2 separate regions of the Homo sapiens genome follow, and region 2 is linked to region 1. Evidence: fine-mapped expression QTL. A gene starts in region 1. The other region holds a variant in brackets. All regions are shown on one strand. Distances are from middle to middle.

Region 1 (15,880 bases):
GGGAGGAGAGAGAAGGAGAAAAAGATCTGCCAGCATGATTTTTGTTGAATTTTCACCTAGATAAGTTGATTCTAATGTTCGTTTGGAAATAGTCTGGCAAGAATACCTAGAAAAAAACTGACAGAAAAAAAAATAGAGTAATCAGAGCAAACTAGCCCTTCCAGACATTTTTACATTTTATGAAGCTACAATAACTTAAACTAGGTTTAGCTGCTGGCAATGAACATACAGATAAAGAGAAAAGAAAAGAATGTAAGAATTTAGTACATGACAACAGTGGTATTTCAAATCAATAGAGGAAGAAGCCATTAGTCAATGAATGGTGTTAGGCAGTTGGGTGGCCAATTGGAGGTGGAGGTGTTAAGATTTATACCTCACATCTCATTATCAAAACAAACTCCAGATTGAGGAAAGATTTAAACATAAAAAATAAAACCATAAAAGCATAAACTCAAAGTGAGGGAGGCATTTCTAAAAATGATTCAAAAGCTAGAATCCATAAATGAAAAGAGCCATTAGTTAGGCTGGGTATGGTGGCCCACTCCTGTAATCCCAGCAGCTTGGGACGCCCAGGTGGGCAGATCACTTGAGGCCACAAGTTCGAGACCAGCCTGGCCAACATGGCAAAACCCCATCTCTACTAAAAAATACAAAAAATTAGCCAGGCATGCTGGCACGCACCTGTAATCCCAGCTACTTGGGAGGCTGAACAAGAACTGCTCGAGCCTGGGAGGCAGAGGTTGCAGTGAGCAGAGATCATGCCACTGCACTCCAGCACTCCAGCACTCCAGCCTGGGTGGCAGAGGGAGACAATGTCTCAAAAAAAAAAAAAAAAAAAAAAAAAAAAAGAGCTATTAGTATTTCTTCTTGGTTAAAAAAAATCACTATAAAGTCAAAAAAGGTATGACAAACTAGAAAAAAAATTAACAACTCATCTCATAAACGGGGTACATTCTATAAAATACAATAGAAAAATTGGCAAAAGATATGGCCAGATATTTCACAGAAAATGCCATGTAGATTGTAAACATATCAAAAGAAGTAAACTACCTTTATATTAAATATATATAGTAAGACTTATACTGAGAAACCATTTTTCCCCTATAAGACAAGCAACAATGGAAAAGTGTGGCAACATCCTGGCCACATGGCAAGGGAAAGCAAACGCTCGCACATGCTGGTGGAAGTATAACTGGCACCACTTCTATGGAGCAGAATTTGGCACTATCAAAATTGAACAGCCACATTCTTCTAAGAATTCTTCCTACAGACACACTGGCATTTTTATGGAATGACTTGCATACACATACATTTGCTGCAGCTTTGTTTTAACAGCAAAATATCAGGGTGAAGGAGTTCAGGACACAGCATCCCAAAACATTCCACTTTAGCATGCTGATTATTTTGGGCTAAAGGCACTTGAAAAACAGCAGGTGTTAAGAAGGGCACCCAAACCTCCTCTCTTTTTCCTGAAAGCAGAAGATGAAGCTCCCATATGAAAGATGTCCTCCCTCTACCAGGAAGAAAGAAACATTCTTATCACAGGAAGTCCAAGCCCAAAGAAATCTGCATAAAGAAACCTTGCTAAACTAAACCTTACCTTCCTAGTTACTTTTCCACAACTGCCACTCTTTTTTTGACCTAGTATATAATCGATCAGGCCAAGCCACTTCCTTGAGTCTTCATTCCTCTTGTGAGGGTAAAAGGTATGTAATACATAAAAAGCACTAAATAAAATTTGCATGCTTTTCTCCTGTTAATCTATCTCATGTTGGTTTAATTCCTAGGCCTCGCCAGAAACCCTAAAAGGGTAGGGAGAAATTTTTCCTCCCCTACAAGGCAAAATGTAAATGTTCATCAACAGGGAACAAGTTAAATATTGTCTATAACAGTATATAAAATGTTACATCTATAAATAAATACATACAAATGGCCATTAAAAATGGAGCTGCTCTAGGCCAGGCGCAGTGGCTCACACCTGTAATCTCAGCACTTTGGGAGGCTGAGGCGGGAGGATCACTTGAGGCCAGGAGTTCGAGACCAGCCTGGACTACATGATGAAACCCATCTCTACAAAAATAGAAAAATTATGGCGTGGAGGCACACGCCTGTAGTCACAGCTACTCAAGAGGCTGAGGCAGGAGAATCACTCGAACCCAGGAGGTGGAGGTTGCAGTGAGCCAAATTGGTGCCATTGCACTCCAGCCTGGGCAAGAGAGAGAGACTCACTGCAACCTCCGCCTCCCAGGTTGAAGCGATTCTCCCGCCTCAGCTTCCCTAGTAGCTGGGATTACAGGCATATGCCACCACACCCGGCTAATTTTGTATTTTTAGTAGAGACAGGGTTTCTCCATGTTGGTCAGGCGGGTCTCCAACTCCCGACCTCAGGTGATCCGCCCGCCTTGGCCTCCCAAAGTGCTGAGATTACAGGCATGAGCCACCACATGCGGCCATTAAAGTGTATTTTTTAAATACATTTAGGGTTTTTTTAAAAGGGCAAGTTATAAAATGCAATATTCAATAAGAAATTTTGTGATTTGTTGGCCGGGCACAGTGGCTCACGCCTGTAATCCCAGCACTTTGGGAGGCCAATGAGGGCAGATCACCTGAGGTCAGGAGTTCGAGACCAGCCTGACCAACATGATGAAACCCCATCTCTACTAAAAATACAAAAAAATTAGCTGGGTGTCGTGGCATGCGCCTGTAGTCCCAGCTACTTGGGAGGCTGAGACAGGAGAATTGCTTGAACCCAGGAGGCAGAGGTTGCAGTGAGCCGAGATCACGCCACTGCACTCCACCCTGGGTGGCAGAGCGAGACACTGTTAAAAAAAATAATAATAAAATTGTGATTTGTTTAAAGCATAGATACATGAACAGGTATAAATTAATATGCTAACTATGATTTCTCATTCTCGCACAGGATTATGGGTAATTTTCTTTTTTCTCCATCAATATTTCTGATTTTTCTAAAATAGACAACTATTCTTAGGTTCCAAAAGGCATTTTTACATTCTTTTTTAAAACTTCCACTAAATATTAAAATTCCTTAATCCCCTGGAAACATTTTTCTAATAAAAATACATGGCTAAAATTATGGTTTCAGTACAGCTGGTACCCACTAGTTTAAATAAAATTTGGGAATGTCTCAGAAGAGAGATTTCACAACAGTCAATAATTAAGGCAGAAATAATTAACCCCAAAAGGAAAATAATCTTAGCCTACAACAAAAGACTTAGTAGCACAGAAGTTCCAGGGATTTGGGTGTTCTTTTTGGTTTTGCACTGTGAGTGAGCGTATTTGTTTTTATTACATGCATACATTATTCTGTTTTGAAATCTTGCTAAAAGATCACAACCCCTCCTACCACTCAGCTATTCCCCTAGGGACTAGGCAGCCTGCCACATAAAAATAAATGCAGGAAGTGAAGAAGAGCTAACAAAGACATCAGCACCATATGGAAATCACGAAACTGTTGACCAAATAAATTAACAGCCTGGATGGGGTGGGTCACACCCAGAGACTTGGGAGTAGACCCTCAAAATTATTATCCATTATTCTCTACATTTGCTTTATTTTTAAATAAATGATACCCCACATTTCTGTTATTTATTTCTAAGGCACAATTACAATGTTAAAATGATAGTGACATATTATTGTGTTATTCTTTTTTTGAAGCCTTTCCTCTCTAGTTTTTTGGCCTCAGGAACCATTCCTCTTCCCCTTAAAATTATAAAGTTGTTTTGCTTTGTTTAAATTCAAACTAGTATAATGTGTAGTGGGCTACGTGACTGTCACTTCTATATAACAGTGCTAAACTAAAGGTTATGACTAACATGAGAGCACTCAAGTATACATATTTATTCAGCTCCATAAAAGGTAGTCAGGAGGGTTTTCTACACAATGTATGCTCTAGTTAGCAACACTGCTCTATCAAAGTAGGAAATACCACACACAGTAAATGTGCTGCGCTGAGCTTAATGCTTGGAAACTCTTGAAAGGCATGATGCAATTTAACGTATTTTAAATCATTTGATGTTCACTGAACTCTCACTGTAAGCAGAGTATTGTATTCAAGCCCTAGGTATGAGAGAAAGTAGAAAAACAACAGAATCTGGGCCTGATACTACAGAGCATTAGAATACTCGTGGTTGAAAACATAAGGAAAACTCAGTGTTTATTTTAAAAATTTACAGCTCTGTTAAGTACAATCAGTAGCAAGAACAGATTTTTTGATAACTTCACATAAGAAGGTTGGAAGAGGGATTTTCAATAGATAAATGCATGTAAGACAAGAGGTAGGGCATTTAATTTTACAACTAGAGTTTCATTAGGGATTTTTTAAGGGACAAATATAAGAAAACTCCATGTACATTAAAAACTATTAAAAGTTCAACAAATCCTAAAATTTTCTGCTTTGGTTTTAAGTATGTTGCCAAAATCACAATTCAGGAGACAATCACAGAGTTTGATAAACCTTATTTCAGCCAACACAGTTTGCTAGTGAACACCAGGTTTAAAATCCCAGGTTGTGCCTTTTCCAGTTTAAGGCAGGAGTCTTGCTCCAGATTCACTTAAGACTGAGTCATCCACTCTACTAGTTCTAAGATCTTCCATGTAAAGTTATCCTCCAAGCCCAGCACTGCCTTATCAGCAACTCTCTGGCTAAGTTCTGCTTCTTGAGAATAGACAGGGAAAACAGAACAGGAGAAAGTGGGAAACAAGAGATGGATTTGGAGGGACACAGAGGTTACTATGGCTGGGGCCTGCTCTTGGACACTTTCCTCACTCATCTTAGGCAGTCAACACATATTTCTAAGCACCTACTGTGTGCACTGGTAACATAAAGATGAAAAGGCAGGTAGGCAGGTGGAAGCAAGAGTAAGGAATGGCCAGGTGGTTTTGTTTTGTGTTTGTTTGTTTTTTGAGATAGAGTCTCGCTCTGTCGCCCAGGCTGGAGTGCAGTGGTTTGATCTAAGCTCACTGCAACCTCTGCCTCCCAGTTTCTAGTGATTCTCCTGCCTCAGCCTCCTGAATAGCTGGGACTACAGGCCGGTGCCACCGCGCCGAGCTAATTTTTGTATTTTTAGTAGAGACAGGGTTCCACCTTGTTGGACAGGGGTCAAACTCCTGGCCTCAAGTGATCTGCCTGCCTCAGCTTCCCAAAGTGCTGGGATTACAGGTGTGAGCCACCGCACCCAGCCTTGGCCACGTTGTTCTAACACAGCAAAGCTTTGGAGTAAATGAACTGACCCTCCCAAGGCAGTGCCTCTTCTTTCATTCGGAGCAGAGTCCTCCACCTCACCCAAAGAACATATGGGAAAATTATAGACACGAAAAGACTCATCTTACAAGATAAAGATTTGAAAAAAATATGTCTTAGAATTAGACACTTAAACTAGTCCTATAAAAACTACACAAGAAGTTGGAATACTGCAGTGCTACCAATGACTGTTGATTCTTACCACCCAAGCTAGAACACAAACACTACTAAAACTAGTTACTCCACTCACGTAAGTAAAACACAGCCGTTTAATTTACTTTGACAAGTACCAAACATAGTTATTCTAAAAACATCATTATGTCAAACGACAGTGTGTAACAGATTAGTATACAAATACACATGGGCACGTTTGTCGTCATGTCTCCCCCGTCCTGCGTCGCCCCCATTGAAAGCCAGACAGACATAATGCTGACTTACATGGTGGCCCCTAAGCCGGCTAACAATATATACAAGACATGTGACAAGCTTTCTAACTCAAACATTTGCATGTCTACTATGTACAAGTCATCATGTTATCCCACTCAGGACAACCAAAGATGAAATGTTTCTAACCTCAAGAAGCTTAAAATTTAGATAATAATATGTATGTGTATATATACGTTATACAGGTAATGTATAATATATATATACACATAGGTAACACATATAAAGCATATTGTATGTAATGTTTGTAAGCACTTGTGTTAAGTCTGAAATTAATCTGAAGGGGAGCGAGGAAAGAGCTGAAAGACTCCAAAGAGTCTATCTTACAAGTAAATGAAAGTAAAGTACAGGCCTGGCCCAGTGGCTCACACCTGTAATCCCAGCACTTTGGGAGGCTGAGGCGGGTGGATCACCTGAGGTCAGGACTTGGAGACCAGCCTGGTCAACATGGAGAAACCTCTGTCTCTACTAAAAATACAAAATTAGCCGGGCTGTGGTGGCGCACACCTGTAATCCCAGCTACTTGGGAGGCTGAGGCAGGAGAATCACTTGAACCAGGGAGGCAGAGGTTGCAGTGAGCTGAGATCCCGCCACTGCACTCCAGCCTGGGCTACAGGTGGAGACTCAAAAAAACAAACAAAAAAAACACCAGAGTCTGAAAAAAATAAAGTACAAGATAGTATATTTGGAATATGGTTTGATTTACATAAAAATGCACACATGACGGCACATACTGGAGGAAAATAAGCAATACATGAAAACTTGTGTCAGGGCTCAAAACAGGAGTGATTCCTATCCTCACTTCCCAAGATTACCTACCTTGTTTTCTTTTTTCAGCATTTATGTATCTTTTTAAAAGCGTGCCACACACATCTGCGTACAGTCACAGGCTTATGATCAGCAGAGATCTCTAGGATGAAACTATTTAAATCTGAAAACCATGGCCTACTATTGCTCTATTTGGGGGTAATTTCACTTGAGCTGTTTTCAGAAGCAAGTGCACCCAACGCTATGGTAAATTAGACTGAAGGTTTTGTGTTGTGGGATTTCACCCTTCCTACGAAAAGCTCTCTTCCCTCAAACCCACAGACACCACTCCACAATCTGGGGGTTTCTAGTATGATAAATATCTGCCTCCCAAACCCCCCATGGGTCATACGCCACCAAAAATCCTAACCACCTGAACTTAGAAGAAGGCAGAAAGTCTTAATTTATGAGGGAGAGAGGGGTTTCCCACCTGGAGGGACGAGAGCGACTCACTGTCCTCTGTTCCTGGTTCCAGTCACTTACAGGAGCTGGCTGCGCCGTGCTCCCTTCACGCGGCTTTCCACCCAAAGCGCATCACGGCCGCCAGCCCCTGACGCTAGCCCCTTCGCCACCTCCCAGAACCTTCTCTCCCTCTCCCCCACACACGCACACTCACACTCACACATGCAGTCCCATCTGCCCCCGCCAGAGCCGCTCCTTCCAGGGCCCCAGGATGCCAGATCCGGATCCGGGAGATGCAACTTGCGGCGCCGGCCCAGGAGGCTCGGCACCTGCTCGAGCCGCCGGGCCGCGCTCAGCCCCGCGCCGAGCCAAAGCCCGAGTCCAAGCCCGAGTCCAAGCCCGAGCCCAAGCCCGCTGGGTCCGCGCCCTCACCTTGCTCGCCGCGGTCCATGTCTCCAGCCCGCCGCCTCGTGTCCTCTGCAGCACCCCCGCCTGCAGCCCGTCCCGGCTCGGATCGCCCGCCGCGCCGCGCAGAGCTCCTCCTCGCCTCCGCCGGCGACTCCCGCGAAGTCCCCACCCCCAGAGGCGTCGGGCGCGGCGGCGCCGCCCGCCCTCGGCCTGGAGCGCTTTCCTGGGGCGTCACCCAACCACCTGACCCGGTCGACCTGTGCGCTCCGCCACGTCGGCGCGGGCGGCGCAGCGCTAGGAGGGCCGGGCGCACCCCGACTCCCGCACCGGCTGGAAGTCGGCCGGGAGGAGGGAAGAGGACGGCGAGGAGATGGACTCGGCCATGGAGGCTGCGTGGAGCCTGCTTGGGAACCGGGATGGCGTTTGCCTTCCACCATCAAGTTATTTATAAAATCAAAAGTTTCCTCCGAGGCCTTGGAGATGCCCTTTCTCTGCATCTGCGAACACCTACTTTCCTATACTTACAGTAGGAAACACAGGAACGTTATTTAGAAATGCCAGTGGCTCTTTTCTCTCTGTATTTTATTACCTAAATAATGCCCTATGATGTCTTCTCTAACTAGGTCATAAACCAGCATAGGTGAAAATTGCAAAGAATCTCTTGAAAAATTATATAGTCTTTTCCATAGAATGCGGATTTTTTAGGTGACTAGGAAGATTTTCATATAATAAAAATCTGTTTTGAGTGCGGGACTGAGGACAACACTAAAATGAATTAAATCAAATGAAATTAATTAAATTAACCGAAGGTCAGAATTATCAGCAGAGATCTTTGGAAAATGCGTGTTGAGGCGTCATGTCCGTTGATCAAAGGACAGTTTGAGGTTCCCGTAACAATCCAGTTCTTTTCATTAGTAGCGTTAACAATCTGTTTTCACAGGGTTTTGCAGTTACTCGTCTTCCATGAAGTCACTTTGATTGTATGGGTCATGGTCTTCAGGTGGTGTCTCAATTTCGTAAGCTATCTGAGGCTGCAAATGAAGTGGGGCTTCTTTTCTGTGTTGCTTGACGTTTAGGCCGAAGCATTGTGTAGCACTCCACAGACAACAAAGAAGCACTTATTCAGATGTTTTAAAATTACTTGTAGTTACCTGAAGTGACTGTATGCTATTAATATCTCTATACTGTCGTGCTGTATGTAAAGTGTAGCTCTCTCCAGCCTGCATCTTCCAGTGTCTTCTGGGGACGTTTACTGTTTGACTCAACCAGATGTGATCTCTTCTATTTGAGTCCTTCTACTCTGACTGCACTTGGCTCCTCTCCTGTGGCACTCACCCCAGCACTGGTGCCAGGATGCTACCAGTGTATGTTTCACAGTCCTATTAGGTTACAAGCTCCAGGTGGTAAAGTCCTTAAAATGGCCTATTAAAAAAATCAAAAAACAGGCCTGGCACGGTGGCTCACGCCTGTAATCCCAGCACTCCGGGAGGCCAAGGCGGGTGGATCACTTGAGGTCAGGAGTTTGAGACCAGCCTGGCCAACATGGTGAAACCTTGTGTCTACTAAAAATACAAAAATTGTCGGGCGCGGTGGCTCACGCCTGTAATCCCAGCACTTTGGGAGGCCGAGGCGGGCGGATCACGAGGTCAGGAGATCGAGACCATCCTGGCTAACACGGTGAAACCCCATCTCTACTAAAAATACCAAAAATTAGCCAGGTGTGGTGGCGGGCGCCTGTAGTCCCAGCTACTCGGCAGGCTGAGGCAGGAGAATGGCATGAACCCGGGAGGCAGAGGTTGCAGTGAACTGAGATCACGCCACTGCACTCCAGCATGGGCAACAGAGTGAGACTCCATCTCAAAAAAAAAAAAAAAAGTTCCAGGTGGGCAAAGATTATTTTGGTCATCTCTGCATCCTTTAATTCTACCATGCAATTAATAAATATTGTAATTTTAAACCAGGCATGGTGGTGTTTGCCTGTAAACCCAGCTACTCAGGAGGCTAAGGCAAGAGGATTGCTTGAGCCCAAAAAGGTGCAATATTTTTTAAAAAATTTTTAATGTAACATAAAGGTAAATTTTGGCATCAGCAGAAAATTCTGTATGTGGTAAAGAATTTTTGACTAGCTGATGCTGAGATCTATTGTATAGAAATAAACATCTGGAGAGACAATCTCTCAATGTACTAATTTGTGGACAAATAAATAGCACTTGAACGTGAGTGTCCGTTACAAATATTTATTGTTTGTATCTGTTTAACTTACTATATAGTGATGAACTTGTTATGTATGCTGAAAGGAAAAAAAGTCTTATCTTTTGAAGAGCTTATAGAGTAGTTCACATGCAGCAGAGATGGCAAATAGCCTACCTGATAAACAGCCTTCCTGTTTTCCTTCCTAAGATAACCTAAATATTGTTTGGAGTGGCAATGTGCCCAGCTGAAACACTGGGCACTTCAAACTGCCTTGCAGCTGGAGGTGGGTCTCTCTCATTAATGTCCAATGAGATGTGAGCAAACTGTACTAATTGGAATCTCCAAGAAAGCATTTAAAAAGAAGACAGACTTGGCAGCATTACTTGGCCCTTCACCCTTCCCATTCCTGCTTAGAGGGGCAATAGCCATTTTGCAAACACGAGGAAGAAATTCACAAGCCAAGGACGGCAGAAAGAACCCAAGAATCCATGGCATCAGAGACCTGCTTCTTACTGGAAAAAAATAAATGCCTGACTTTGTAAGGCCACTGTAGTTGGCTTTCTGTTAGATGGAGCCAAATGCAATCCCAACTGATAGAATGCGCCATATAGAAAATGCACTCTGGCATGCACCCACGTAGGTGGATACATGCAATCCTGAGCCTTAGAGATAGATTAACTTAATTTTCTCTTTGAGGTTAAATGAGCACTGTTCATACTATAAATATCCTAGTACATGATATTTCCACAAAAGCCTGCTTTTCTCTTACATCTTCCTACTACATGTATTTCTACAAAAGCCTGCTTTTCTCTTGTGTCTTCGTACTACTTCATTTGTTTTCTTCTGACAGAATCTGTGCTTACAATTTATGCTGTGTTACTTCTGAAATGAACAGGTCTTATGTTTTAGCACTCTGAGGAATCTCTGGAGAATGGCTAGCACTTAAACAGAGCACCTGGGTGCATTGAGTTGAACCACATTTAAAAGGCTCAGTACAGGAAAGAAACACTAGATTTACTTTGTGGTGTTATTGTTGATGGGAACGTGGATTTTTTTTAAGTTTCTTTTTTTAAGTTTCTTTTTTCAGAATACTCATTTGTTGGTGAAATTTTTACAAGAAATTGTAAACTTCCCCTGAAACAAATGCATTGAAGCAAATGAAGGTATTGAAAAGGATAGATAGAAACCGACTTATGTAAGTGGAAAAACTCTATACTCTGCCCTTGTTGTATGTATCTTCCTTGACCGATAGCCAGCAGAAATCACACAGAATGTGTGGCAAGTGGGATGCTTTCTGTAGTCTTACCCCTCATATTTGTGGGGCCTGGGGCGAGGATACAAATGGAGCCCCTGGCTTTCTCTTCTGGCTCTGTCCTTTCACTTTGACTCTGTCCTGCACCAGGCTGGCCCACTCCCTTGTGCGTGGATGCCTTAGGACATATCCCATCTCTATCCACCCTTTCCCATCAGCCGAGCCTTGGCCATACCTCCATTCTAGGGTTGCACTCAAAAGGACTGTCCTGGGAGAAAAGCTGAAGGCCTTGACAACAGATGTTGGCCAGTTTAGGCAAGAGATTCTGTAGTTATAGGTATCAGATGCACCGTTGATAAAGAGGGGGTAGATATTTGATGCTAGGGACTGCTCATCAAGGAGAACAAAAGTGGGAAGTCTCTATGGGACCCAGGGCGCCCAGTGGAGGGGCTTCAGGTAGCCTGGGTCTAGGGTTGCTGCCAGATAAGATAAAAGGACACCCAGTTCAATTTGAATTTCAGATAAATGACAAGTAATTTTTTAGTGTAAGTATATCCCTGGCCAGGAGTGGTGGCTCACCCCTGTAATCCCAGCACTTTAGGAGGCCAAGGTGGGTGGATCACTTGAGGTCAGGAGTTCGAGACCAGCCTGGCCAGCGTGATCAACCCCTGTCTCTACTAAAAATACAAAAAATTAGTTGGGTGTGGTGGCACATGCTTATAATCCCAGCTCCTCAGGAGGCTGAGGCAGGTGAATCACTTGAACTCGGGAGGTGGAGGTTGCAGTGAGCCAAGATTGCACCACCGTACTCCAGCCTGAGTGACAGAGCAAGACTTCATCTCAGAAAAAACCCAAAAAAGTATACCCTACAATATTTGCAACATACTTATACTAAAATTTATTATTTATCTTAAATTCTTAGCAAGTTGTCTTATATTTCTATTTGCTAAATCTGACTACCCTACCTATGTCAAAGGGTAGTTCTGGCTCTCTGATTGTTCAAACAAATGAAGGCATATGATACCACAATTTTGAAAATTATATCATCATCCAGGAGAAAGATAGACTCTTCCTGCTTGAATCATGGTAGTAAACAAAGGGATGAAGGTTAGGAGGCCCAAGAGATCAAGAACAAGTTTTGGAGAAAAATTGATTTAATGTCAGGTAATGAACATTTTTTTGCTTAAGATAATTGAATAGCCATCTTATTGTATTCTCTTAGCCATCCATGTAAGAGACTGACTGTGAATATGAAATAAACAACTTTTAAAAATGTGTAGAAACAGGTATTGGCAGGAAAGAGTACTTAACACTAATGGAGGTTGGACACATAAATACCTAAACATTAACAGGAAACGATCTCACACTATTGATTTTGGCTACATTAAGAAAAGCCATAGACACTTAATCTTTCTTGTATGTTTTTAAGCCACTCTGGATTCTGTGTATTTATCAAATTACATATGGGAACTGGGTAGGGAAGGGAGTGCTGGGAGAGCCATTGTCCCTTTTCTCCTGGAGTCTCCACCATCACCGTTCTAATCTTTTCATCTCTCTCTAAGATTACTCCAGGGTATAAAATGCATTAGAGATATGTATATTTAACAATTAAATGATTAACAATATTTCTAAATTTTTACACGGTGTTCAACTCAGTGTCTTACAAACCATTTCACCCCTGCAAAGATAGCTAGTTTTCCAGAATGCCAATGGTCCTCTGGCAGAAATGGTGTAGGCCAGAATGGCAAGTGCCCAGGGTCTTTGATGAAGAGCCAAATTCTGTGCCACTGTCACCAAAATATAACTCTGCAAGACCAGAAACAACTGAAAACTCTGGAGTGGATTTATCTAAACCATCACTTTAAACTATCTGGCCAGGCACAGTGTCTCATATCTATAATGCCAGCACTTTGGGAGGCCAAGGAGGGAGGATCATTGGGGGTCAGGAGTTCAAGACTAGGCTGGCCAACATGGCGACTAAGATACAAAAATTAGCCAGGAGTGGTGGTGGCACATGCCTGTAATCCTAGCTACTTGGGAGGCTGAGGCACAAGAACAGCTTGAACTCGGGAGGCAGAGGTTGCAGTGAGCAGAAATGGCACCACTGCACTCCAGCCTGGGTGATGGAGTGAGACTCTGTCTCAAAAACAAAAACAAACAAAAACATCACTATGGATCTGAGTGTGGTGGCTCAGACCTGTTATCCCAGCACTTTGGAAGGTTGAGGTGGGAGGATTGCTTGAGTCCAGGAGTTTGAGACCAGCCTGAGCAACTTAGTAAGACCTCCTTGTCTCTACCAAAAAGTCAAAAGTTAGCCAAGCATGGTGGTATGTGCCTGTAGTCCCAGCTACTCAGGAGGCTGAGGCAGAAGAATTGCTTGAGCCCGAGAGGTTGAAGTTACAGTGAGTCAAGATTGCACCACTGCACTCAGTGTGGGCAACAGAGCAACACTCTGCCTCAAAAAAAAAAAAAAGAAAAGAAAAAAGAAAAGAAAAGAAGAAGAAAGAAAAGAAAACATCACTATCTTAGGCCTCTCACTTAAGCTTCTCTGGTTCACTGTCCTCATCTCTAAACTATGGAGTCATACTTTAGGATAAAGATGGCATATCAGACACATTTTTATTGATTGATTGATTGAGACATGGTCTCAGCTGTTGCCCAGGCTGAAATACAGTGGCAGGATCAATGCAGCTCACTGCACTGATGTGCAGCTCACTGCAGCCCCAACCTCCTGGGCTCATGCAGTCCTCCCATTTCAGCCTACTGAGTAGCTGAGACTACAGCCATGAACCACAGCATCCAGCCTTATTTATTTTTAAAATGTTTTTTATTGAGATATAACTCATGTACCATAAAGCTCACCCTTCTGAAGTAAAAAATTAAGAGGTTCTTGTAAATTCTCAACATAGATTCATTCTTACTTCCTCTCTATGCTGCTAAAATTACAGTAAAGAGATAAACTCACAAGGACAAAGAGAATGTGAGTGTCTACGTAATGATAATTGATCTTGTGAATCTGAGAAGGCCAAATGCTAAACTGGGAAAGCCAAGAAGAACCTAATTTCCACTGCAGCACTTCCAAAAACCTCAGGACTTGGCATCAGGTATCTGTGGATGTAGAAAGAAAGTGAGGCTCAAAACAAGAGGATTGGTTGAAAGTTTACTTAAGAAGTTGGGTCCCATCCCCTTCCCTATTCTGCAAGAATACTAAAGTGGCTTCTCTGGAGAAGGAAATTTGACAATCTCTTTACTAGAAGACTAAGTACATTTGAGGCTGAGGATTTCCTAATACAGGCAGAAAAATTCATTAGCAGTTCACATCATGAATGCTGTTTCTCCAGCCTTGCTCTGCTTGGTTCTCAGGATGCAAACAGCCAGGCATATACTGTGAAAGCAGGAGACTGAAAGATCCATCTCTCAGGAATTTAACCAACCTAAGAGTAAAGAACCAAAAATGTTGACATTGGATAAACCAGATCACCTTACCCTCAAATCTATGGTCACAAATCTTGCCCACGTACCTAAAGAGACCAGTCAGCTGCTTCATGCTCAGGGCAGGCAGCCATGATCCAGAGAAAAACCCTGATATGGTTTGACTCTGACCCCACCCAAATCTCATCTTGAATTGTAATAATCCCTATGTGTCAAAGGCGGAGCCAGGTGGAGATAATTGAATCATGGGAGCAGTTTTCCCCATATTTTTCTCGTGGAAGTGAATAAGTCTCACAAAATGTGATGGTTTTATAAATGGGAGTTACCCTGCACATGTTCTCTCTCTTGCCTGCTGCCATGCAAGACATGACTTTGCTCCTCTTTTGCCTTCCACCATGATCGTGAGGCCTCCCTAGCCATGTGAAACTGCGTGTCAATTAAACCTCTTTTCTTTATAAATTACCCACTCTCCAGTATGGTTTTATTAGCAGCGTGGGACCCAACTAATACAAGTCCCTTAATGGAAGATAAAGACCAAAATAAACACCATAAAAAGGCAACTTACAGGAAACAAACTATACAAGGAGAAGGAAACAAACAGATCTTTAAAGCTATTGTTATTATATTCAGAGAGATAAGTGAAAATATCCTAAACATGAGACAAAAATAGTTTGCTCTATAAAAAAATGGAGCATTCAGAGAAAAACCAGTTGTTAGAAATTATATTATAGCAGACATTAAAACTCCTGTGGTAGGTATCATTTGGGATAAAGATCTCCAAGGATGTCTGTGTCCTAATCCCAGAACCTTTGGCAAAAAGGGACTTTACAGACTTGATAAAGGTTAGAGATCTTGAGAGAGGAAGATTATCCTGGATTATCAGATGGACCCACTCTAATAACATGTGCTCTTTTGTTTTTGTTTTTTGAGACAGGGTCCCACTCTGTCACCAAGGCTGGAATGTAGTGGCATGATCTTGGCTAACTGCAGCCTCGACTTCCAGGATTCAAAAAAATCCTCCCACCTCAGCCTCCCAGGTAGCTGGGACTACAGATGAGCACCACCACACCCAGCTAATTTTCATATGTTTTTGTAGAGACGGGGTTTTGTCACGTTGCCCAGACTGATCTTAAACTCCTGAGCTTAAGTGATCTGCTCACCTTGGCCTCCCAAAGTGCTGGGATTACAGGTGTGTGCCCCTGCACCCCACCTACATGTGCTCTTAAGAGCTGAGAATCTTGTGACTGAGAGATGCCACAACAGAAAAAGAGGCAGGAGAGTTTCGAAAGCATGAGAGGACTTGACCCACTCTTGCTGGCTTTGAAGATGGAGAAAAGGGGACCATGGGCCAAGGAGTACGGGTGACCTCTATAAGCTGAATGAGCCCTTAGTTGACCACCATCAAGAAAACAGGACCTTAGCATACAATCATGCGACACCGAATTGCAACAACCTGAATATGCAAGAAACAAATTTTTCTCAAGAGCCTCTAGAAAGAACATACCTTGTTAGTCCTAGATACCTTGACATTAGTCCTGTGAGGCTCATGTTAGACTCCTGATCCTCAGAACCATAAGTTAATACCTCTGTGCTACTTTAAGCCACTCCATGGTTGGTTTGGAGTATAAAGTAAATTTTCTAGAGAGAAGACCAAAAAACAAAGGTATGAAAAATAAAGGGGA
Region 2 (15,880 bases), 78 kb before region 1:
AGGATAGAGATGGCCATACCCCAGTGAGAGGCAGATGGACCGCTCTGAATACCTACATAGTGTTCAGGCTTGGAATGCAGAACCTGAATCGAATCATGAGGAAACATCAGACAAATCCAAAACAAGTTTTTGTTGGGGTTTTGTTGTTGCTTCGGGTTTTTTTGCTTTTTTTTTTTTTTAGTTTTTTTTTTTTTTTTTTTGAGACGGACTCTCACTCTGTTGCCAGGCTGGAGTGCAGTGTCGTGATCTTGACTCACCACAACCTCCGCCTCCCCGGTTTAAGTGATTCTCCTAACCTCAGTCTCCTGAGTAGCTGGGACTACAAGCGCACACCACCACGCCCAGCTAATTTTTGTATTTTTAGTAGAGACGGAGTTTCACCATATTGGCTAGGATGGTCTCGATCTCCTGACCTCGTGATCCACCCGCCTCGGTCCCCCAAGGTGCTGGGATTACAGGTGTGAGCCACCGAGCCTGACCGGAAGGTTCTAGTTTTTAAAAGAGGAGGGGCTGCATTCTTCAAAAACATCGATGTCATAAAGGACAAAGACTGTGAAAATCCACATTAAAGGAGACTGGCATTACTAGGTCCATTGAAAAAACTGGAATATGACCTCAGATTAGATAAAAGTCTTGTATCAATTTCAAATTTACTGGCTGGGCTTGGTGGCTCACACCTGTAATCCTGGCACTTTGGGAGACCAAGGCAGGCAGATCACCTGACATCAAGAGTTCGAGACCAGCCTGGCCAATATGGTGAATCCCCGTCTCTACTAAAAATACAAAAATTAGCTGGTTGGGGGGGCACGTGCCTGCAGTCCCAGTTACTCAGAAGACTGAGGCACAAGAATTGCTTGAACCCGGGAAGCGGAGATTGCAGTGAGCTGAGATCGTGCCACTGCATCCCAGCCTGGGCAACAAGAGTGAGACGCTGTCTCAACAAAAAAAAAAAAAAAAAAAAAAAAAAAAAAAATCAAATTTACTGACGTTGACAACTGTGGTGAGAATATTGCCTTTCTTAGGCAATGGCAATATATACTGAAGTATTTAGGGGCAGACGCCATGATATATGCAACTTCCTCTCAAATTGCTCAGAAAATAAGAGTATGCATGTGTACAGACATCCACACACAGAGAGACTGGTCAACCGGATGGGGCTAAACGTTAACAGTGACCCTGAGTAGAGAATGCAGGTGTCCTTTTTTTTTCCCCCCATCAACTTTTAAGTTCCAGGGTACATGTGCAGGATGTGCAGGCTTGTAACATAAGTAAGTGTGTGCCATAGTGGTTTGCTGCACAAATCAACCTATCACCTAGGTCTTAAGCCCAGCATTCATTAGCTATTCTTCCTTATGCTCTCCCTCCCCCACACCTGTGTTGTTGGCACATATACACCATGGAATACTATGCAGTCATAAAAAGGAACAAGAGCATGTCCTTTGCAGGGACATGGATGGAGCTGGAAGCCATTATCTTCAGCAAAGTAACACAGGAGCAGGTATTTACACTATTCTTATTCTTGCAATCCTTCTGTAAATTTGAAAAGGGCTAAAAAACAAACAAACAAAAAACAAGAACTCCTCTGCCTTAGATTCAGCAGCCCTGAGGGCGCTGTGGAGAAAGTGTGTGGCAACCACCTCTCACAGCAATCACGGGGGCAGGGCCTAATGGGACTGGGCTCCAGCCACAGACACACAGGCACATACCGGCTCCAGGCCCCTTCTGAGAGCTGGAAGGGCTCTCTCCACCTTCCACCGAAGCAGCAGTTGGTTTACCTTCTACAGAAAAGAAGTCTCCCCATCATATCCCATGCTGGTCACATCTTCCCAGAGGGAGACCAGTGGGGACCCTGTTGCACAGGGTGAGAGGGCAGAGAGGCTGAGAGGTTAATGAACACCCCACACCCCACACCTCTTCATTCCCCGACACTGTGCCACAATAAACAAACCTTGACTCCAAATAAAAAGTACTTGATTTTAAGTATGAAATTCAATTTAAAATCACAAGGGTAGATGCTCTCTTATTTACAAAATTTCTCAGCTAATCCTCAAAACCTCTGTGAGGTAAACCTCTGCCTCTCCCTATTTTTCAGAGGGGAAACAAGACAAGGACAGTTCCTGTAAACCTGTCTTTGGGCATAGAGCTAGCAAGTAAAGGAGCCGCAGTTTGAAGCCTGGTACGTGCCTCCAAGTCCCTGTCCTCTCCATCCTGTGGCTGTAGCCTAGAGCCGGGCAGTAAGGATAAGCCAGTCCCTCACATCTAATGGCCCTGGGGATCTTGCTGTGATGCAGAGTCTGCATCCTGGTGATGGGAGGCTGCTGGCCCTGGAACCACATGGGATCACACTTGGAGTAACAAGGTGATGGAAGAACTCGAATGGAGGCTGGAGAGTAGGAATTTGGTTTTCGTCAGATTAAAGCAACAATTCTTCATTAGAATTTATTTAATCCCTCAATAACACGAGGTTAGTCATGTTATCTCCAATTTCCAGAGGAGTGAGCATAAGGAACTGAGAAATGAAGGAAGCCACCCTACAGTGGTCATTTTCCTCTCACTGCATCTAGGCCGTGGGGAGCCAAGTCGAGTAATTAGGAATGGGAGGCCAAAGCCACGTGTCAGAAAGATCATTCTCACCCCTGTCTGAAGCTGGACTGCCGAGGGGAGAGGGAAGTCAGGACAGCTACCCAGCAACAGCGCCAAGGGTGTTCTGGACTGAATTGTGTCTCCCCAGCTTCATGTGTTGAAGCCCTAACTCCCAATATGGCTGTATTTGGAGATGGGGTCTTTAGGAGGTAATTAAGATTAAACAGGGTCATAGGGTGAGGCCCTAATCCAATAGGACTGCTGTCCTAGTAAGAAGAGACACTAGGGATGCTCACGCAAAAGGCCTTTTTCACAGAAAAAAGGCCAGGGAGGACATAGCTAATTTTTTGTATTTTTAGTAGAGACGGGGTTTCACTGCATTAGCCAGGATGGTCTCGATCTCCTGACCTCGTGATCCGCCCGCCTCGGCCTCCCAAAGTGCTGGGATTACAGGCGTGAACCACTGCGCCTGGCAGCTCTCTGTCAACCAGGAAGCAAGCCCATGCCAGAAACCTATCTACCCTGCCACCAGCACCTTGATCTTGGACTTTCAGCCTCCAGAATCGTGAGAATATAAATTTCCATTGTTCAAACCACCTATTCTATGGTATTGTTATTGCGGCCCAAACCAACTAATACAAAAGGCATGTGCCCTGCATGGAACAGAAGCGGGAACAGCAAAGCAAAGACACACTGCATGACACCATGAACAGACAATCAACAGATGCTGGAGATCAACTGGAGGACTTGGGTGACGGGCAATGAGAAGCCAACGTGTGATACCCCAGCAGGAGTTGTAAAGGACAGTGACCGCATTAATGAAGATGGTGGCAAAAGAGAGGCAGGACTGAAGAACAGAGAGAAGAGACTTTAGGTGATAAGAGAATGAGCTGCATTTTGGCAGATTTGGTTAATAGAGCTCACAAGACTTCTGGAGTAAATGGCCAGCCTGAGGTTAGAAATTAAACTTCTATCCTCAGGGAAAAAGTTAGGGGCTAAGATATAAAATGTGGGAAACCCAGAGATCGTCAAAAAAAAATTTGAAGAGAAGAGAGGCCCTATGAAAAGGAGTGGAAAAATTAGTGAACACCTACAATCAGCATGCAGGCCAAAGAGCCTAAAAAGGGCAAGCAATGACCTTTAATGATGACAATAATTATGACTTATCCTTAAGGAACCCTTACTATGTGCCAGACATTCTTCTATGCACTTGCATCAATTTTATGGGGTAAGTTTTTCCCTACCCTTATCTTACAACAAAACTGAGACACATCAAAGTTAAGTGTCTTGCCCTAGGCACAGAGCTAGAAAGTGGTAAAACTTAGGATTCCAATTCCATTGCTCTCAAGAAGCAAAACATCTGGAAGAAAACCTTGAGTGACCAATGTCACAGGAATCAAGGGAGGAGAGAAACTGGATAAGATCAAATGCTAAAGAGACGCAAGAAGAAGCCACAGGACTTGGGGTCTGGTGATCTCGCACTGAAGTTTTAGTGAGAGTGATGGTAGATGTCAGATAAGCAGAAGTGGTAGGCAGTGGAGGAAAGGAAAGGGAAGAAGCGAATGAAAAGAAGTTTTAAAAAGTATTTTAGGCCAGGCATGGTGGTTCACACCTATAATCCCAGAACTCTGGGAGGCTGAGGCAGGAGGATAGCTTGAGGCCTGGAGTTCAAGGCCAGCATGGGCAACAAAGCGAGGCCCTGGCTCTACAAAAAAAATAAAAAATAAAAATTAGCCAGGCACAGTGGTGCACACCTGTAGTTCCAGTTACTCAGGAGGCTGGGTCAGAAGGGATCACTTCAGCCCAGGAGTTCAAGGCTAGAGTGAGCTACGATGGTGCCACCTCTTTAAAAAACAAATAAATAAAGTTTTCAAATGTGTGTGTTTAAGAGCAAAGAAGACAATGCAGAAGAGGAAGCACAGTGGGGATGGGGAGGGGCGGGGCAGACCAGGGGCCAAGGAAGGTTCAGGGATGCTGTCCCTCACCCAGGGGCATTTCAGTTCCTAAACTGAATGAAACTAGATTAAATCATGTTGGCATTCTTTTAAAAATATGTGGCAGTTTTCAGATTAGAAACTTTGCATTAGAAACTTAGGAAATATTCCCTATGGGAATGCCACTTCTTTTCTCCTTTATTTTCCATCCCAATGGGGGAAAAAAGACTATTATAGCACAGTATTATAAGAAAGAAAAAAAAAAAAACTATCCTCTTTGGAGCCTCTTCTCTAGAATAAAAAGGCATAACCTAGCAGGCATATGCAAATTATTTGGAACTAAATGTAAATACTCTTAAGTGATAAAATGGATTTGTATTTTTAAAGAAATCGTTTATTTGGCCCACTGACTTGCAAAGAAATTCTCACTTGTTAGGAACCCCTAACAGTCTACTTAGAATATTCTTCTGCCCTCTCAAAATAACTAAAATTGAGTTAATGTCAGCAGCCAGGACAGAAGGTTTTTGTTCTTCACACAGTGTTTCCTTCAAATACTGAAGAGCAAGAGTGACATATAATAAGCATAAGATGTCATTCCCTCTCTCAACCTATCTCCAAACATGTCGTCTGGATAAGCCTGTACCTGGGAAAGTCAGAATCTGTTGAGAAGTCTCAAGAATGCCTGAATTCTCTATCACAAGGAGTCACAGACTGGATTCTAAAATACACAAAAGAGGCTGGGCGCAGTGGCTCACACCTGTAATCCCAGCACTTTGGGAGGCTGAGGCGGGCATCACAAGGTCAGGAGATCAAGACCATCTTGGCTAACACGGTGAAACCCCGTCTCTACTAAAATTACAAAAAAATTAGCTGGGCGTGGTGGCGGGCACCTGTAGTCCCAGCTACTTGGGAGGCTGAGGCAGGAGAATGGCCTGAACCCAAGAGGCGGAGCTTGCAGTGAGCCGAGATCGCGCCACTGCGCTCCAGCCTGGGCGACAGAGACTCCATCTCAAAAAAAAAAAAAAAAAATACACAAAAGAGCATTACTATTTTCACTTCGGTCATCTCAGTACATGGTCCTGCCACTGTCATTGTCAGATCATGAGAACACCAGAAAATAGTGGAAAGAGAGCTTGATATTTGTCATATACTTAATTAGATACAATAGACAGATTTTTTCATTTTAGAAATAGAGTTTGAGTTGAAATGTTATGGTCACTCCACATACTGATGGGTGATTCCATGATTACAGGCTCAGGTAAAAGATCTCCAGCCAGTGCTTCTCAAATAACTTTATTACATACCAGAGCCACCAGGGGAGCCTGTGGAACTACAGATTCTGAGTTAGAAAGTCTGGGGTGGAGCCCAAGACTCTTGCTTTCTGGACAAGCTCCAGGTGATTTCTGATGCTGCAAGTCTGGCTTTAGATAACAGCTGCTAAGTTTGCCTGAGGATGAAAGCTTGAGTAAACTCTGAATACTGATGTTACAGGACTCCAGCACTTTCTAACTATATACATTTGAACATAAGAGACAGATTTTATAGCTAAAAAGGTTTGGCTTTTTGTATATATTTCTTATTGATACAAATATGTGTACATGTATATGGGGGCACAAATATGATACTCTATCACATGCTTACACTGTGTAATGATCAAATTAGGGGTTTGGGGCATCTATCACCTCGAGTATTCGTCATTTCTGTGTGTTGGCATTATTCCAAGTCCTCTTTTCTAGCTATTTTGAAATCTACAATACATTGTTGTTAACTATGGTCATCCTACACTGCTATCGAACATTAGAACTTATTCCTTCTAAGGTATGTTTGTAACCATTAACTAACCTCGTTTTATCCTCCCCCCACCCACTGACACATCTTCCCAGCACAGCCACTGTGAAAAACAGTATGGAGATTTCTCAAAACAATTAAAAACAGAATTAACATATTAATAGATCCAGCAATCCTACTACTGGGTATTTGCCCAAATGTAAAGAAATCAGATGTCAAGGATATTTGCACGTGCGCGTTTATTGAAGCACTATTCACAATAGCAATGATATGGAATCAACCTATATTCATTAATAGTTGAATAAAGAAAATTGTGGTATATATACACAATTTATTACTACTTGGCCATAAAAAAATGAATCTTGTCATTTGCAGCAACATGGGTGGAACTAGAGGTCATTATGTTAAGTGAAATAAGCTAGGAACAGAAATACAACTGTCACACGTTCTCACTCAAGTGGAGCTAAAAACTGTAGATCTCGTGAAGAGAGAGTAAAATCACAAATTCCGTGTTATACACATTCTACCACAATTTAAAAAAAAAAAAAGATCACATAATTATAAGAGGTGAGATTGTCACTCACACTTTAAATTACTGCCAGAGGCTGGGAAGAGGAGGAGTTGAGCAGGGGTGGGGGTAGGAATAAAGGATGGAATAAAGGTGGAAGGGGGAATAAAGAATATATTTATTACCAAGGAAGTGTACATTTCAAATGGTACAGATGGTAAATTATATACATATATTTTGTCTCAATTAAAAAATATAAAAACTATAAAAAATTAAATGTTAAAAATAAAAGATTTTGTTTTTTGTTTTTCTGAGACCCTAACAGTTCACAAAGCAGGCAAGTTCAGATAGGACAAAACCGGCTGTGTCACAACAGGGTGTGCACATGCTTGGTCTTTTCAACGGGATAATTATTTCGACTCTGGAATAATAATAATAATAATAAACAGAGTCCAGAATAATGGCTCAGTAATAAGAGAATGAAAGCAGGCCATTCTTACTAAAAGTATTAACAATGTATTTGAGAGTACAGTGGTCTCTATGGTGAGATTACTGGAAGATTAAAGAGGTGTCATCCAAGCTAAATGTTTCCAATTTGCTGAATGAGTTTAAAGACAGCTCTACAGGGGTGCATAAACACAAGCGACTGTCACAACCCTAAAAGGAATAAATGAACTGGTGGACTACATTTTAATGTGGAAAAAACTTCCACAATGCTTACACAGCTATTCCTGGCAATGAGAGGCTCATATGAAACACTTTTCCTTAAGGGAATGGGAGTTTCTAGAGAACAGTAGGCACTTATTTAAAATTAATATTGGACCACAAACTTCTATCATCAGCAAGCTGAGACCTAACAAACAAGATCAAAATACCAAGTCATACATTTAGGCAGTTAAACTTGCTTTTAAACTGTAATAAGCTAATTAGATGCATTCAGTGGGTCAACCATTAAAAAAAATATACACTGCACAAATCTTGTCAATTTTTCATTAAATTTTATTAAGAAACAAGAGTCCTGTGCCAAAAGTGATAGCTTCACCATCTGAACCTGCTACTCTGGTTAAGAAATGACATTTCCAATTCCAAATTTCACATACTTTCCTTTATAAAGACAATAGCAGAAGACCAATGCTACATGTAAACTCAATAGTAGCCCATTATCTTGAAACCAAATCAGTGTGTGGAAAGCTTCAAAA[C/CCA]TTTCTTTGCCTTTTGGCACAAGACTGAAGACATGAGATTTTTTTTAACATCTGACCATAATAACTGCTGTATTAATCACTGTGAAGGCTCCTTGTTGACTTTTCTCAGAGTTTTATAAAACATCGCTATCAAACAGGTATTTATCAAAATAGGCATATAATTTTATTTATTCCAGGAAGCTCTCTCAGTGTTAAAAGGATAAGATAATTAACGTTTAGATGGAAAGAGAGCATGGGATGGAAAAATGCTCTCCTGAAACACAGCCAGATCTATGAAACCATACAATTACTGTCATGTCATCTCTGAAAGATCAAGTTAACAATGTGTATGATTTAATAATCTTACTTAATATGGCCAGGAATGCTAACAAATCGCCAAGCCAATTTGTTCTTATTCTTACGCAGGTAGCTAGACTACACCTCCCAGGCTCCTTTGCAGTTAGATGTGGCCATGTGACTAAGTTCTAGACAAAAGAAAATTTTATATATATATATATATATATATATATATATATATATATATATATATATATATATGTATGTATATATAACATGAGGGAGACATAAAGATTGTTGCCAATAGCCACTGAGATTTTGGGAGTTACTGATGGAAACATATTGCCAAATATAGCTTCAGATGTATTTCTTCAAATTCCTCTTTTAAAATGATCATATCCCCAGGTAAGAGTTTTGGAAACAGATAGTGGTGATGGTTACACAATGATGTGAATATGATGAATACAACTGAACTGTATACTTAAAAATGGTTAAAATCACAAATTATATCTTATATACACATATTCTACCATAATTTAAAAAAAAAATGATCACTTAATTATAAGAGTTGAAATAAGTTGGAACCATGATTAAGAAGTATTTTAAATACTCTTTCCTGAAAATATAAGCAAGACCTTTGTGTCCAGACTTGTTCAGAAAATGCTCTAAGTGAAGAAGAGGAAGCCCTGGGAGAGGCAGGCCTGGTTAGGTTGTCACAATAAGGAGGGTAATTGTCAGCAGGAGGAGAGATGCTGGGACCAAGAATATATCACAGATCCTTCAATTGCACTCCCAGGTATTTACCCAAATGAGCTGAAAACTTATGACCACACAAAACCCTGTAGTGAATGGTCATAGTGGCTTTATTCATGATCACCAAAAACAAGAAACCACCAAGATGTCATTCAGTAGGTGAATGGATAATAAACTGTGGTACATCCAGACAGTGGAATATTATTCAGCACTAAAAAGAAATGAACTAGCAAGCTGTGAAAAAACACAAAGAAACTTTAAATGCATATTATTGACAAAAGCCAATCTGAAAAGCCAAAATACTGTAAGATCTCAACTATGTGACATTCTGGAAAAGACAAAATTATGGAGACAGTAAAAAGATCAATGGTTACCAAGGGCTGAGGGGGAGGCAAGCAGGAATGACTAGGTTGGGGTGCTGGTGATTTTTAGGGCAGTGAAAGTATTCTGTATGATACTGCAATGGTGGCTACATATTATGCATCTGTCAAAATCCATTGAACTGGACAACACTAATAAAAACTACAGACTTTAGTTAATAATAATGTCTCAGCATTAACCAAATGTAACAAATGTACCATATGAATTTAAGGTGTTAATAATAAGGGAAACTAGGGGCGTGAAGGAACTCTGCACTACTTGTTCAATTTTCTGTAAACCCAAAACTGCCCTAAAATACAAAGACTAGGCCGGGTGCGGTGGCTCATGCCTGTAATCCAAGCACTTGGGAGGCCAAGGTGGGAGGATCATGAGGTCAAAAGATCGAGACCATCCTGGCCAACATGGTGAAACTCCGTCTGTCTCCACTAAAAATACAAAAATTAGCTGAGTGTAGCGGCATGCGCCCGTGGTCCCAGCTACTCAGGAGGCTGAGGCAGGAGAATCGCTTGAACCCAGGAGGCGGAGGTTTCAGTGAGCTGAGATCGCGACACTGCACTCCAGCCTGGCAACAGAGTGAGACTCCATCTCTACATACATACATACATACATACTATCGGCCAGGCACAGTGGCTCACGCCTCCAAGCCCAACACTTTGGGAGGCCAAAGCAGGCATATTGCTTGAGCTCAGGAATTTGAGGCCAGCCTGGGTAACATGACAAAAACCCGTCTCTATGAAAAATACAAAAATTAGTTGGGCATGGTGGTGTGCACCTGCAGTCCCACCTGCTGAAGAGGTTGAAGTGGGAGGATTGTTTAAGCCCAGGTGGTCAAGGCTGCAGTGAGCCATGATTGTGCCAATGTACTCCAGCCTGAGTGACAAGAGCAAGAACTTGTCTCAAAATAAATAAAGACTATCAAACACACACACACAAACACACACACACACACACACACACACAAACTTCTCCTAGTCTGCCTGGGGTAAAATACTCAAGCACCAAAACTCATCTGCTTGGACTATGGTCAAGGCTTCCTAAGTATCTGAAGTAGCACCAAAGAAAGCATGTTTACATGTACAGGCATACTCCTGTTTTACTGCACTCCACTTCATTGCACTTCACAGTATGTTTTTTACAAACTGAAGGTTTATGGCAACACTGTGTCCAGAAAGTCTATCTATTAGTGCCATTATTCCAGCAGCACATGCTCACTTTGTGTCTCTGCATCACATTTTGCTAATTCTCTCATTATTTCAAACTTTTTCATTATTATTATATCTGTTATGGTCATCTGTGATCAGTGACCTTTGATGTTACTATTGTAATTGTTTTGGGATGCCACAAACGACACCCATACAGGATGGCAAACTCAATCGATAAATGTTTGTGCTCTGACTGTTCCACAAACTGGCCATTCTCTCATCTCTCTCCCTCTCCTCAGGCCTCCCTATTTGATGAGACACAACAATATGGAAATTAGGCCAATTAATGTCCCTACGATGGCCTCTAGGTGTTCAAATGACAGGAAGAGTAGCACATCTTTCACTTTAAATCAAAAGCTAGAAATGATTAAGCTTAGCGAGAAAGGCATGTCAATAGTCTCTGTAGGCCAAAAACCAGACCGCCTGCACCTGCCAGGTTTTGAATGCAAAGAAAAAGTTCTTGAAGCTTCGAAATTACAAGTGCTACTCCAGTGAACACATGAATGATAAGAGGGCAAAAACAGCCTTATTGCTGATATGGACAAAGTTTGAATGCTCTGGATAGAAGTTCAAACCAGCTCAACACTCCCTCAAGCCAAAGCCTAATCCAGGGCAAGGTCCTACCTCTCTTCAATTCTATGAAGGCTAAGAAAGGTGAGGAAGCTGCAGAAGAAGTCTGAAGCTAGCAGAGGTTGGTTCATGAGGATTAAGGAAAGAAGCCATCTCCATAACATAAATGTATAAGGTGAAGCAGCAAGTGCTGATAGGGAAGCTGCAGCAAACTATCCAAAAGATCTAGCTAAGATAATTTATGAAGGTAGCTGATATGGTTTAGATCTGTGTTCCCATCCAAATCTCATGTCAAATTGTAATCCCCAGTGTTGGAGGAGGGGCCTGCTGGGAGGTGATTAGATCATAGGGGCAGATTTCTCCCTTGCTGTTCTCACAATAGTGAGTTCTCAAGAGATCTGATTGTTTAAAAGTGTGTAACACCTCCCCACTTTGCTCTCTTCCTCCTGTTCCACCCATCTAAGACGTCCCTGCTTCCCCTTTGCCTTCCACCATGATTCTAAGTTTCCTGAGGCCTCCCCAGCCATACTTCCTGTACGGTCTGTGAAACTGTGAGCCAATTAAACCTTTTCTTTATAAATTACCCAGTCTCAGGTAGCTCTTTACAGCAATGCAAGAACAAACTAAAACGGTAGCTACACTAAACAACAGATTGTCTATGTAAATGAAACAGCCTTTTATTGGAAGAAAATGCCCTCTAGAACTTGCAAAGTTAGAGAGGAGAAGTCAATGCCTGGCTTCAATGCTTCAATGGACAGGCTGACTCTCTTCTTAGGAGCTAATGTAGCCAGTGACCTTAAGTTGAATCCAATGCTCATTATCATTTCAAAAGTTCTAAAGCCCTTAAGAATGATGCTAAATAAATCTACTCTGCCTGTGCTCTAGAAATGGAATAACAACGCCTGGATGACAGCCCATCTGTTTATAATATGGTTTACTGAATATTTTCAGCCCACTGTTGAGAGCTACTGCTCAGATAAAGATTTCTTTTCCAAATATTACTGCTCATTTACAATGCACCTAGTCATCAAGAGCTCCGATGGAGATGTACAAGGAGATGAATGTTGTTTTCATGCCTGCTAATACAACATACATTCTGCATACCATGGATCAATGAGTAATTCCTATTTTCAAGTCTTATTATTTAAGAAATCCATTTTGTAAGGCTACTGTGGCCAATCTGCCAGAGATTGCTCGGGTGGGTCTGGGCAAAGTACATTAAAAACCTTCTGGAAAGGATTCACCATTCTAGATGCCATTAAGAAAGTTCATGTTTCATGGGAGGAGGTTAAAACATAGCATAACAGGAGTTTGGAAGAGGGTGATTCCAGCCTTCATGGATTACTCTGAGAGGCTTAAGACTTCAGTGGAGGAAATAACTGCAGATGTGGCAGAAATAGCAAGGGAACTATTACAGAATTACAAGTGGAGCCTGGATATGTGATTGAATAGCTGCAATCTCATGATAACACTTGAAGGGATAAGGAGTTGCTTCTTATAGATGAGCAAAGATGAAATCTACTCCTGGTGAAGATGCCGTAAACACTGTTGAAATAACAACAAAGAATTTAGAATATTACATAAACTTAGTTGATAAAGCAGCAGCAGGGTTTGAGAGTTTTGACTCCAGTTTTGAAAGAAGTTCTACTGTGGGTAAAATGCTATCAAACAGCATTGTATGCTACAGAGAAATTTTTTTGTGAAAGGAAGAGCCCATCAATTGCCACGGCCAGCTCAACCTTCAGCAGCTACCTCCCTGATCAGTCAGCAGCCATTCTCATTGAGGCAAGACCCTCCAGCAACAAAAAACATTAGGACTCACTGAAGACTCACTGACCGTTAGCATTTCTTGGCAATAAAGTATTTTTAAACTGAGGTAAGTGCACAATTTTGTTTTGTTTTGTTTTGTTTTGGGGGCGAGGGTATATACACAATTTTTTAGACATAATGCCTATTGTGCATTTAAAAGACTACAGTATAGTGTAAACATAACTCTTACATACACTGGGAAACCAAAAAATGTGTGTGAGTCGCTTTATTGCTATATTTGCTTTAATTATGGCTGTCTGGAATCAAACCCACAATATCTCCCAAGGTATTCCAGCAGTTCCAATGGAAAGGCTAAGCTCATAATAAAGGAAATAACGGCCCTATTATAATATCAAATGCCATTATTAATGCAAAGTAGACAATCGCCTGACCAACTGTAGCTAAATTCTTGGCATTTATGAAAAAACAAACAAACAAACAAAAAACACAATGTTTTGAATATCTGGCCAAGCTAGAGATGCTGCAAATGATGGGAGGGTATTACCATCTGCAAAGAACCTTCCACCACAGGTGAGGGAGGTTCACAAAACTGGATGGTGGTCTAACATCTTTTTTTTTTTTTTTTTTTGAGATGAAGTCTCGCTCTGTCACCCAGGCTGAAGTGCAGTGGTGTGATCTCGGCTCACTGCAACCTCCGCCTCCCAGGTTCAAGTGATTCTCCTGCCTCAGCCTCCTGAGTAGCTGGGACTACAGGAGCGTGACACCACGCCCAGCTAATTTTTGTATTTTTAGTAGAGACGGGGTTTTACCATGTTGGCCAGGCTGGTCTTGAACACCTGACCTCAAGTGATCCACCCACCTCAGCCTCCCAAAGTGCTGGGATTACAGGCGTAAGCCAGCGCGCCCAGCTGGTCTAACATCTTTTTAAAATGAAACAGAAACAGATATCTATTGAATGCAGAAGTAGAACAAGTTTAAGGCCTACATTTAATTCTTAAAGTCTCTTTTCTTGGCAAATATTTGGTGAAAACAGCCTATCAAGATGACAAACCTATTATGGCCCAATGATACAACAAATACTGGCAGCCCTAGTTCCTTTCTGTGGATTTCTAAGAAGGCAGGCATGGGCCCCAGCATCTTCTCTAAGTAGTGTTCTAAACATTTAACCTGCATGTTTATCAAAACACGCAATTTTAAATTTAGATTCTTGATAAAGAGGATTTGATTTAGAAAGATAATCCTCTGGGGAAATCTCGCCTCCAAATTTTAAGAACTGAAAATCAAAGGGCACAAATTGCAGAAGGGGGCAAAGTGACACACAGAAACAAGCTCTGAAATAAACCAAAGTAATATCTTAGTGTGAAGATGATTGCTTTAAATAAGCTGATCCAAGCCCTAATTATTTTCTCTGGCAATTTCTTACTCTTAAACAAAAACAGAAACACTATTCATACTCCCCTTTACAGATTGTACTCTGCTGCTTATGAACAAGCAGACAAAGAGAAGCAAAAAGGCAACAGCACCTTCAGCATTTCTCTCTAAAAACCAATTGTTTTCGGAACAGAAACTAGAATCTGCCTCACTGAAAAACCCTACCTGAAACCAGGTTCATACTGGCTGCTGGATAAAGGACTTTTCAGCAGGTGGCATCTCAGAAATTACTTACTAAGTCAGCTCTTTCCAGTCACCTAGCTAGCCAAAGTTTATTAGGTCATTTGTACAGTCAGGGTTCTCATATCTCACAATTATGGAGGCTAAGTAAGAGGTCCCAAGACCTGCAGTTAGTAAGCTGGAGACCCAGAAGAAACTGTGGCATTAGATTCTAGTTCAAGCCTGGGTCCAAAGGCAGGAGAAGACCAATGTCCCAGCTGGAAGACAGTCAGAGAGAGGTTCCCTCTTTCCCAGCCATTTTGTTCCAATCAGGCCTTCAATGATAGGATGAGGCCCATCCACATTCGGAGAAGTCAATCTGCTTTACTCAGTCTACCAATTCAAATGTTGATTTCATCCAAAAACAGCCTCAGACACACCCAAAATATTTGACCAAATGTCTGGGCACCCCATGGCACAGTCAAGTCCACACATACATTTAACCGTTACATCATTCCTGAGCTCAGAGTGTTGCCATACCAAGTGTTACAGTGAGATATTTACTATTGAACGTATTAGCAGCAGGGACCCAGACAACAACATATTTAAAAGAGAAGAAAAGATGTATGGGAAGAGAAATAATGTAGATAACAGATAAACATAATAAAGAATTAAGGCCGGGCGCGGTGGCTCACGCCTGTAATCCCAGCACTTTGGGAGGCTGAGGCGGGCAGATCGCCTGAGGTTAGGAGTTCGAGACCAGCCTGACCAACATGGTGAAACCCCGTCTCTACTAAAAATACAAAAATTAGCCAGATGTGGTGGCACATGCCTATAATCCCAGCTACCCGGGAGGCTGAGGCAGGAGAATCACTGGAACCCGGGAGGTGGAGGTTGCAGTGAGCTGAAACGGCAACACTACAATCCAGCCTGGGCGACAGAGTGAGACTCCCAGCTCAAAAAAAAAAAAAAAAAAAAAAAAAAAAAGAATTAAGCAACTGTGTTAATCTGTTTGCATTATTAAAAAGCAATAACTGAGAGTGGGTAATTTATAAAGAAAATAGGTTTATATTTGGCTCATGGTTCTGCAGGCTGTACAGAAGCATGGCACCAGCATCTGCTTCTGTGAGGGTCGCAGGAAGCTTCCACTCATAGTGGAAGGTGAAGGGAAGGCAGGCGCATCACATGGTGAGAGAAGGAACAAGAGAGGGACCAGGTTCTTTGAAACAGCCAGCTCTCGTGTGAACCAACCGGGTGAGAACTTGATCATTACCAAGGGGAGGGCACAAAGTCATTCATGAAGGATCCCCCCCATGACCCAAACAC

Which allele goes with the higher level. Positions count from the first base shown, and alleles are read on the strand shown. Sizes are in standard deviations (SD) of each study's normalised expression.
For the expression in adrenal gland of the gene that starts at base 7,485 in region 1, CCA is the low allele of the variant in region 2 and C is the other (moderate effect, 0.56 SD a copy in GTEx).

Evidence for each region. PIP is the estimated chance that this variant, and not a neighbour inherited with it, causes the effect.
Region 2: its variant is fine-mapped to the expression of TPD52 in adrenal gland (GTEx, PIP 0.91).

The regions. Positions count from the first base shown.
Region 1 is chr8:80,164,080-80,179,959 of GRCh38, forward strand. It overlaps TPD52 (tumor protein D52), which reads right to left and starts at 7,485. Exons shown (of 8, transcript NM_001025253.3): 1 at 7,346-7,485. The coding sequence starts at 7,364. TPD52-MRPS28 (TPD52-MRPS28 readthrough) reads right to left here and starts at 7,485. Exons shown (of 7, transcript NM_001387778.1): 1 at 7,346-7,485. The coding sequence starts at 7,364. It overlaps LOC105375920 (a long non-coding RNA gene), which reads right to left. Exons shown (of 4, transcript XR_929095.3): 4 at 13,575-13,874. RefSeq lists a silencer at 7,317-7,646.
Region 2 is chr8:80,085,937-80,101,816 of GRCh38, forward strand. All of the region lies in intron 1 of TPD52-MRPS28 (TPD52-MRPS28 readthrough), which reads right to left. All of the region lies in intron 1 of TPD52 (tumor protein D52), which reads right to left. LOC105375918 (a long non-coding RNA gene) reads left to right here and starts at 1,459. Exons shown (of 3, transcript XR_007060978.1): 1 at 1,459-1,498; 2 at 2,093-2,176; 3 at 5,770-6,288. RefSeq lists an enhancer at 15,806-15,880. The variant C/CCA (reference allele first, on the strand shown) is at 8,013.